Homo sapiens: one gene and its partner. The protein of the gene in region 1 purifies or fractionates together with the protein of each later gene. This does not show direct contact. Each region holds a gene or a part of one and is shown on either strand. Other genes may lie near its edges.

Region 1 (5,108 bases):
TTACACAGTTGATTTGTTGATTTGAAATTTGTTCTCAAAGATGTCCCATCTTTTAATTTTTTTATTAAACACTTATCTCTAACAGTCCACTTTCTCACTTCCACTCATGTGATTTGTGCTTATATAATGTGAATGGTTGGAGGTTAATTCTGTTCTTAGTTCTAGCTAGATGTTTCCCTATTCACAAGCAAATGTGAATTTCATTGGATACTGTTGGAGTTCATAGAAATATTAATTCATTTAATGGATATGTATTGAGCCCATCAGTTATGTAGCAGCCATTGTGCTGTGGATACAGAAGTGAGGAAAACAGAAAATGTCCCTGCCTTCATGGACCTTACATGAGGGAGAGGGACAACATAATAAATAATAAATGAGCAATATAATGTTAAGTGCTATGATGATGATCCTGTCATGGGTCTGTGCCTGAGACCCCGTGGTGAGTAATACAGATGTATCTTTTTCTGGACTGCCTCCTAACTCTGTATCTATATTGTTTGATCTTCACAACAGCATGTCATTTGCATATCCCTTGGTATTTGCAACTCTTCTCCAAATGTTTTCTTTAGTTTTTTCTTCTAACAAATCTGGCTTTCTCAATGCTGTTTCCGCTGTGGGCCTCTTCAAGTAGAGACAACTTTCCCCCCGAGTTCATATATAGGTATGCGGTGAGTGTCTTTCTTGGTCCGCATTTCTCTGCCTTCCATTGTTACAGCTCCAGCTCCTTTAAAGCCCTTGTGATCTTATTATATCATCTGATACCTCCTTTGTTGCTATTCGACCCCCTCCCCCCACACCTGTATTCGTTGATGATTTGAACACCTAGCTAATGGTCTTGTGTACTGGCGCTATTGTTGTTATTGTTCTTGGCCTCTGCAAGATCCAAGTTGATAATTTATCCCCTATCCTGGACTTATGATTCTTTTGTTTGCTTGTTTTCCATGATCATTTTTCTATCTGTATATAGCCAGACACTATCTTTTTAATTTTTATTATTTGGACTACTGCCCACACCTCTTAAGTATCCCTCCTGCTTCCATTCTTACTCTCATATAGTCTTTTCACTACATAACAGCCAGAGTTCTCTTTGTGTATTGAATCACATCAGTCTTCTGGTCAGAACCCTCTAGTGGGTTTTTATCATATGTAGACTTAAATCCAAACTCATGTTGTGGCCTCTGAAGCCATATGTGCTCATCATTTCTATTTTATCTTCTGCTCCATTCCGGCTCATTCACTTGCTCTGGTCACATGGATCTTATTCTCTCTTTTAGCACACCACATTTATTCCTTCTCAGGATCTTCATTTCACTAGAATCCAACTTACTTTGTCTTACTTGAAATGCCATCTCCTCAAAAAGGCTTCCCTGGCCACCCAAATTGAAGTACCTCTCCCCTAATCACACTTGATTTCATTTCTCTATTTCATTTCCAGTGTTTTGGCATCAGATGTTATCTTTTTAATGTCTGTATTCATTGTCCGTCTCCTCCTATTAAAAATAAGCTCTTCGAGGACAGGGTTTTTGACTTCTTTGTTCACTACTGGTTCCCCAGGGCTGTACACATAGTAAGTGTTAAATAAATATTTGTTGATTGAATGAATAAGAAGTAATCAAGGAATGTGCCAAAAGAAATAGAAATTGAGGTGGGTCTTGAATGATGACTTGGCTTTGGCTACATGGCATGTGCATGAGAAGGGTGCACCAGGCAGGGCTAGCAGAGTGAGAAAAATGAGAAGCTACAGAGCATGACTGCGTGGTCATGGGATATTGAATAATCCAGTGGACTGGAGCCGAGGACTCATTTTGGTGTAGTAATAATATACTGGGCTTTCCCAGGCTCCCTGTCACAGTGCTTCTGTGGTGCTCAAGTTTTGCCCTTGTTGGAGCCCTCATTTTATCATTTATTTCATGTGTTTAACTTACATAGTAGTGAATATAATAATTGTGGTGTCTTTTTCCTTAACTGAATTAAAGGGGACAATTAGGTCCTAGCTTATTTTCCAGAACACTTAATAAATAATTGTTCTGTTATGTATAATTGAAAAGTAGTTATTGGCCAGGCGCAGTGGGTCATGCCATCTGCAATCCTAGCACTTTGAGAGGCCAAGGTGGGAGGATCACCTGAGGTCAGGAGTTCGAGACCAGCGTGGCCAACATGGTGAAACTCTGTCTCTACTACAAATACCAAAATCAGCTGGGCATGTTGGCAGGCACCTGTAATCCCTGCTACTCAGGAGGCTGAAGCAGGAGAATCGCATGAACCTGGGAGGCAGAGGTTATAGTGAGCCGAGATGGCACTGCTGCACTCCAGCCTGGGCAACAGAGTGAGATTCCATCTCAAAAAAATAAAAAAAGAAGAAAAAAAAAGAAAGGTAGTTACCAGATATTGAGGAAACCTTGCATGTTCATACTAAGGATGTTGAATATTGATTGTATGGATTAGAACAATGTTTAGAAAAAAATCAGATATTAATATGAAGGAACAAAAATGGTCTCATGAAAAGGAGCTGAAAGGCTTTCTAGTTAGTTCTAGATATAGAACCAAGGGAGGATATAGGTCTGAATGAACTAGACTGGGGATGGAAAAAATCAGAAGTTGTTACTGTAAAAGAATGAAGAGAAACTAGATGGTCACTAGAGGGAGCAGCAAAGTCAAGCAAAGTGAGACCTGCTCTTTCTTATAGATGAAGTGAACTTGCTAAGGCATATGTGAGGGAGTAAGAATTTAAGTCTTGGGAGGATATTTAAGGAAGTCATAGAGAATGCAATTGAAACCGTAAGTGAAAAATTAAAGTAGGCAATGATATTTCATTTTTGGCACTAAGGCACTAACTACACTTTGTTCCTTTTAACTTGGTTTCTTTAACATATTTATTTGAATTTTCCTTATGAGAAGTTTCTCTTATTTTTGTATTCTGCTTTGTATTTGAGTTATCTTAAAAGTTCATCTGCTATTCAGCAATTGTACTTTTATCTCAGGGAAATGAAATCTTATGTTCACATAAAAACCTCTTCAAGAATGCTTATAATACCTTCATTTGAAATAGCCCAAACTGGAAACAACCCAAGTGTTCTTCAATGAGTGAATAAATAAATTATGATACATTCATACCATGGAAAACTATTAGTAATAAAGAAATGAGCTTATATACAACTTAGATGAATCTTGAGGGAATTCTGCTGAGTAAAAAATGACAATCTCAAAACAATACATATTATATGATTCTATTATACTCTTGAAATGACAAAATTATAGAGATGGAGAACCAGATCAGTGGTTGCCAAAGATTAGGGAGCTGAGGGAGGGGAGCAGGGTGCAAAAGATAGATGGGGGTGGTTATAAAATCATGAGAGATCCTTGTGGTGACAGAACTGTTCTGCATGTTGACTGTGGTGGTGGATGTATGAACCTACATGTGACAAAACTGTATAAAATTTAATACGGAAGTAAGTGCATGAGTACAACTGAGGAAACCTGAATAAGACTAGTGGATTGTATCAATGTCAGTATCCTGTTTGTGATAATCTACTGTAGTTGTATATGATTTTATCTTTGGGGGAATTTGGATATATGCTATCTCTTTGTATTATTTCTTGTAACTGTATGGGAGTCTGTAGTTAACTTCAAAGAAAAAGTTTAATTAAATTAAAAAAACAGGTAAAATAAATTTTAATAGTATGTTATTTAATCCAAAGTATCTAAAATATTATATTAACTTGTAACCAGTAAAAAATGTTAATAAGAAACATCTTATACAGATAAGAGTCATCTGTAACCACAGTAATAAAGTGGCACTTTCTTATGGTGTTTTTTTTTTATTCCAATTAAATTGAATTAGGAACCATAACAAATATTACAGGGGACCTGATAAGTCTTCCACTTAACTTAAAACTCTACTATTTTTTTCTTGTAGCTTTCTACCAAATCCTTCCCACCTTGCATGCGTCAGTTACATAAAGCCTTGCGGGAAAATCACCATCTTCGTCATGGAGGCCGAATGCAGTATGGCCTATTTCTGAAGGGCATTGGTTTAACTTTGGAACAGGCATTGCAGTTCTGGAAGCAAGAATTTATCAAAGGAAAGATGGATCCAGACAAGGTAATTTTGAAAAAAAATATCAGAGTGGTACCTGATATTTTAATTTGGTCTGAAAATGAAACGGTCTATTTTTTTTTTTAAATATGCTCCCTGCAATGTAGTTGAAAATTCTAAAAGGATAAATGTGTTGACAATTCAGTTTAGATAAAAAGAAACTTGCATATTAATCTAATACAAAAGATTGGGGAAGGAATGTTTTCATTTGTAGGTATACTGCCAGTAGTAATTATAAGACTGAAATTGCTTTCAGAGTTATATATCTGTAGGAATGTATGTGTGTCTATACATATGCACATAATGTTTTGAGCACTGGGAGATATCATGAACAAATAAAATGGAACAATTTAAAATATTTTCTATTATGTTATGCAGAATCTTTTATAAACTTTTGTTTTTTTTTTTCGAGACAGGGTCTTCTTCTGTTGCCCAGGCTGGGCTGGAGTGCAATGGTGCAATCATGGCTCACTGCAGCCTCGACCTTTGGGCTCAAGTGATCCTCCCACTTCATTCTTCCCAGTAGCTAGGGCCACAGGTGGACACCATTATGCCTGGCTAATTTTTTTCTTTTTTTAATTTTTTGTAGAGATGGAGTCTCACTATGTTGCCCAGGTTGGTCTCAAACTCTTGGGCTCAAGCTGTTCTCCTGCCTTGGCGTGCTGAAGGGTTGTGATTACAGCTGTGAGCCTGAGTCATCATACCTAGCCTATAGAACATTTTTAGATGGACAATAATTACTATAAACCTGAACAACTTTTTAAAAACCCTATCTGCAGTGCTTATATTCCCAATCCTATGCCTTGTTTCTCTTTAATAGTGCCAGCTAATAACATTTTACTTGGAAATATGATTTCTTGCCCCTTCTATGCCATGACACTGTGGTATGAAGAACATTTTTTACTGTTTATTTCTTGATTTGCTGCCTCCTAAAAGTAAATTATGGAAGAAAGAATATTTACCAGGTACATTTTATAGTACTTTATTATGTTTTATGTTAGTTTGCAAGCAT
Region 2 (4,273 bases), on another chromosome or scaffold:
CCGCAGCATCCTGGACCTTCCGTGGCAGATTGTGCAGGTATAGACCTTGATCCAAGGGGAGGGCAGTGGCTCTGCTGATGGCCCAGGGAGGGGGTGTCCAGCTGGGCCCTGAGGTCTGGGATGGGAGGGTTAGAGTGGGCCTGGAGTTTCCTGCCCATCGTAGGGAGGCCTAAGGCCCTGTGCTGGGAGCTGCAAGCTACCTGGAAGGTGGCCCCGTCTGTGGGTTCCAGTGTGTCCTGTGATGTGCTGTATGTCCGTGTGGCCTTTCAGATCAGCGAGACCAGCCAGGCCGGCCTGTTCAGGCTGTGGGCGCTCGTTGGCAGTGACTTGCACTGCATCAGGCTGAGCATCCCCCGTGTGTTCTACGTGAACCAGCGAGTCGCTAAAGCGGAGGAGGGTGCTTCGTATCGCAAGGTAGGGAGGAGCTGGTGCTGCCTCTGCAGTCATCTGGGCAGCCTGAGGTGGCTTTCCCATGATCTAGCCTGGCCTCCAGCCTCCATCTCCTCAGTACCTTATGGGGATGTTCTAGGAATTCCTCAAAACAACGTGTGTGAGCGCTGAGCACCGAGCCTGGGGCAGAGCGAGTGCCGGGAATGGAGCTGCTGGTGTCCTTGTCACGATGAGCTTGTCTGCCCGCGAGGTCCATGTTGCGGGGACAAACCAAGTGGCATTGGTTAGAGATTGTGAACTCTGTCTCCGTAGGCTCTTTGGTTGTTAACAGCTTTATTGGGATGTAAAGTTACGCCATCCAACTCACCCATTTAAAGTGCAGAATTCAATGACTTTTAGTGGCATGACTATTGCCAGTCAATAGTGACATTTTCTTTTTTTTTCTTTTTTTTAATTTTACTTTGATTTCTGGGATCCATGTGCAGAAAGTGCAGGTTTGTTACATAAGTAAGCACATGCCATGGTGGTTTGCTGCACCCATCACCCCGTCACCTGGGCATTAGGCCCCACATGCATTAGCTGTTTATCCTGATATTCCCCCTCCCCTCACCCCCCCATTCGGATATTTTCATCACTCCAAAAAGAAACCTGGCATCCCTTACCTGTCACCATCCTCCCCCAGCCCTCAGTAGCCACTGATCCACTTCCTGTCTCTGGGTTTGCCTGTTTGGGCATTTGATGTAAATGGAACCCTACAGTAGGTGGGTCTTTGTGCTGGGCTTCTTCCACCTGCAGAAACTGCGAGGGTTTTCATGTGGCCATGAGTGCGCTGAGGCTCTTAGATGGCATCTCCACCCGAACTCCCCGTTGTTAATGTGTCGGCTCAGCACATTTCTTGACTGGATGCTGTGAATCACGTAAGAAGTGACACGTAGTTGGGGAGATGAGGTGTGCATATTTGTACCTACACAAGGAGGTTTTCTGGAGAAGGTGAAACTCGATTCCAGCCAGGTGATTCAGTAGAATGTGCATATAGAAAGTAGACGCAGAGCCAGGTGTGGTGGTTCACACCTGTAATCCCCGCACTTTGGGAGACCGAGGTGGGCGGATAACAAGAGGAAAGCGGACGCAGAGGCATCGAGACCACAGAGAACAGGTGGGACTGTGGGGTTTCTACACCTTCCTTTCGATGCGTGGTGCTGTGGTGCTGTGGCCGTGTGGAAGTGCCCTAACTTTTGGGATGTTTCCCTTTATGACTATCAGCTCATCTCGAGGGAGGTTCTGGCGCTGTGTGAATATTCTGTCCTCAACGTTTGACTGGATGGTGTCAGCATCCATGTCTCGTGGGGTCCATGGGGCTCCAGGATGATATCTTCAGATTCTGTTCCTCTGTGTGTATTAGCTGTTTCCTTTATAACGAAGAGCTTTGTGCAGATCAGGTAGAAATGAACTCTATTCCTTAAAAAGCAAGATACGAGAGGGATAATACGCTTTTTTTTTTTTTAAGCAAGATAAATGCTTTTTCCCTTTAAATTATTTTTAATTTTCAAGGTAGGGCATGGCAAAATGGGTTTATTCCTTTCATTTTTCCTCTCTTTTTAAAGTATTACTATGGATTAGAGGATTTTTGTTTAACTTTTTTGTTTCTGTTTTTGAGAAGGTCTCTCACTCCATCACCCAGGCTGGAGTGCAGTGGCATGATCTTGCCTCACTGCAGCCTTGTACTCTTGGGCTCAAGCAATCCTCCTGCCTCAGTGTTTAATGTTTTAACATCAACCGTAGCCAAATCCCGCCCAACACACACACGTTAGGTATGTTAAGGTACACGGTAGGCCCTCACTTTATGTTGTTGATAGGTCCTTAGAAACTGCAATTTTAAGTGAAATGACTAAGTAAGATGATGTATAATGAAACAGATTTTTTTTCTTCTCAGAAACTATAATGAAACTGTGTTGGCCAGGCGCAGTGCTGCATATCTGTAATCCCAGCAATTTGGGAGGCTGAGGCTGGTGGATTGCTTGAGCTCAGGCATTCGAGACCAGCCTGGGCAACGTGGCAAAACCCCTTCTCTACAGAGTATTTTTTAAATTTATTTATTTTTATTTGTTTGTTTGTTTGTTTTGAGATGGAGTTTCTCTCCTGTTGCCCGGCTGGAGTCCAGTGGCGCATCTCGGCTCACCGCAACCTCCGCCTCCCGGGTTCAAGAAATTCTCCTGCCTCAGCCTCCCAAGTAGCTGGGATTACAGGCACGCACCACCACGCCCGGCTAATTTTGTATTTTTTAGTAGAGATGGGGTTTCTCTGTGTTGGTTAGGCTGGTCTCGAACTCCTGACCTCAGGTAATCCATCCACCTCGGCCTCCCAAAGTGCTGGGATTACAGGTTGAACCATGGCGCCCGGCCCCAGAATTTTTTTTTTTTTTTTTTTAAAGGAAGAAAGAATGTTGAACAAAATGATGTTATTTGAGGACCTGCTATACATTACTTCACTTAACCATCACAGTTTCCAGGAATCCATTGATGTTAAGTGAGGACTTACTGTAATTTACATATAGTTAAGTGCAGATTTTTAAATGTGCAGTTGATTGGGTTTTTGGACACATGACTATGCCTGTGTCACCCACACCCCCACCCAGGTGCAGAACGTTTCCATCACCCGGGAGGGTGCTCTTGTCCCCCTGTGCAACCTTCTGCTGGCCTGATTTCTGTATTTCTGTAACTGTGTGCATGTGACTTTCTAGAACTTCATATTAATGGAACCAGACAGTAGACTCTTTGGTGGTCAATATCTTCTTGAGACTCAAATTATCCCAAATTGGGCTGGCCAGATCCCTTCAAGCTGGCACCTGAGTCCTTTTGACATGCCCTGTTGGTCTTTGAAAACTTCCTTGCTTTTTGGCCACTAAGAGAGGCCAGGCTCACCTTGAACTTCCAGACGTGGAATTAGCTGTTCCTCTAAAGAGCCTGAGCCTCGTTGAGAGGTTATGTTGAGAAACCAAGCTTAGAGCTCAAGGGGTATCATTTCATCTAGATTCCTTCAGTGAACAGCCAGGAAATATATACATTTTAAAAAGTGCAATTACACTAATTGTTCCAGTTCATATTTACCAGAACATAATTTTTCATTTCTTTGATTTTGTGTGTGTGTGTGTGGGTGTGTGTGTGTGTCGGTCTAATTTCATGTTACTGGAAAAATCTAACCCTACTGGTTCTCTTCTCGCTTGAGAATTATTCAGATTTTCCTGGTTGTTGTTACGCCAAATAACGCTTTATTGCAACCTGGACATTTTACATATTTGAGACTTTGGGTATTTTTAAAAATCCTTTAGCGTGTCAGGTTTTTTTGTTTGTTTGTTTTAGCAACAACCAACACGGTTAATTCCAGTGCCCAAGCTCTTCCTTGCCTCTTTGTGCAAAGCTTCCAATGTCAGCTCAGCCTCCAGAGCCTCTGCTGCGTTGTTTTGGGTCACCTGTGCAAGTGCAGCTCGTAGTGAGCCTGGGACTTGTGCTGCTGGTTCATGCATGAAGCTAGGGTGCTCCTCTCCAGGATTCCCCCAGCCCCCCACACACGAAGCTAGGGTGCCCCCTCTCCAGCTCTCCTCTCCAGGATTCCCCCAGCCCTCCACACAGGGAGCTAGGGTACCCCTCTCCAGCTCGCCTCTCCAGAATTCCCCCAGCCCTCCACACAGGGAGCTAGGGTGCCCCCTCTTCAGCTCTCCCAGACCCCCCAGGACCCCACACAGGAAGCTAGGGTGCACCCTCTCCAGCTCTCCCAGACCCCCCAGGACCCCACACAGGAAGCTAGGGTGCCCCCTCTCCAGCTCTCCCAGACCCCCCCAGGACCCCACACAGGGAGCTAGGGTGCCCCTCTCCAGCTCTCCCAG

The links. The genes of interacting proteins can lie anywhere in the genome.
Region 2: the proteins of PRIM2 (region 1) and POLE fractionate together in Homo sapiens (co-fractionation; one large-scale study listed by BioGRID). This does not show direct contact.

The regions. Positions count from the first base shown.
Region 1 is NC_000006.12:57,533,524-57,538,631, forward strand, and holds part of PRIM2 (DNA primase large subunit), read left to right. Parts: intron 1-3,916; coding exon 3,917-4,102; intron 4,103-5,108. UniProt on the Homo sapiens protein: Regulatory subunit of the DNA primase complex and component of the DNA polymerase alpha complex (also known as the alpha DNA polymerase-primase complex) which play an essential role in the initiation of DNA synthesis.
Region 2 is NC_000012.12:132,645,070-132,649,342, reverse strand, and holds part of POLE (DNA polymerase epsilon catalytic subunit A), read left to right. Parts: coding exon 1-37; intron 38-270; coding exon 271-414; intron 415-4,273. UniProt on the Homo sapiens protein: Catalytic component of the DNA polymerase epsilon complex. Participates in chromosomal DNA replication.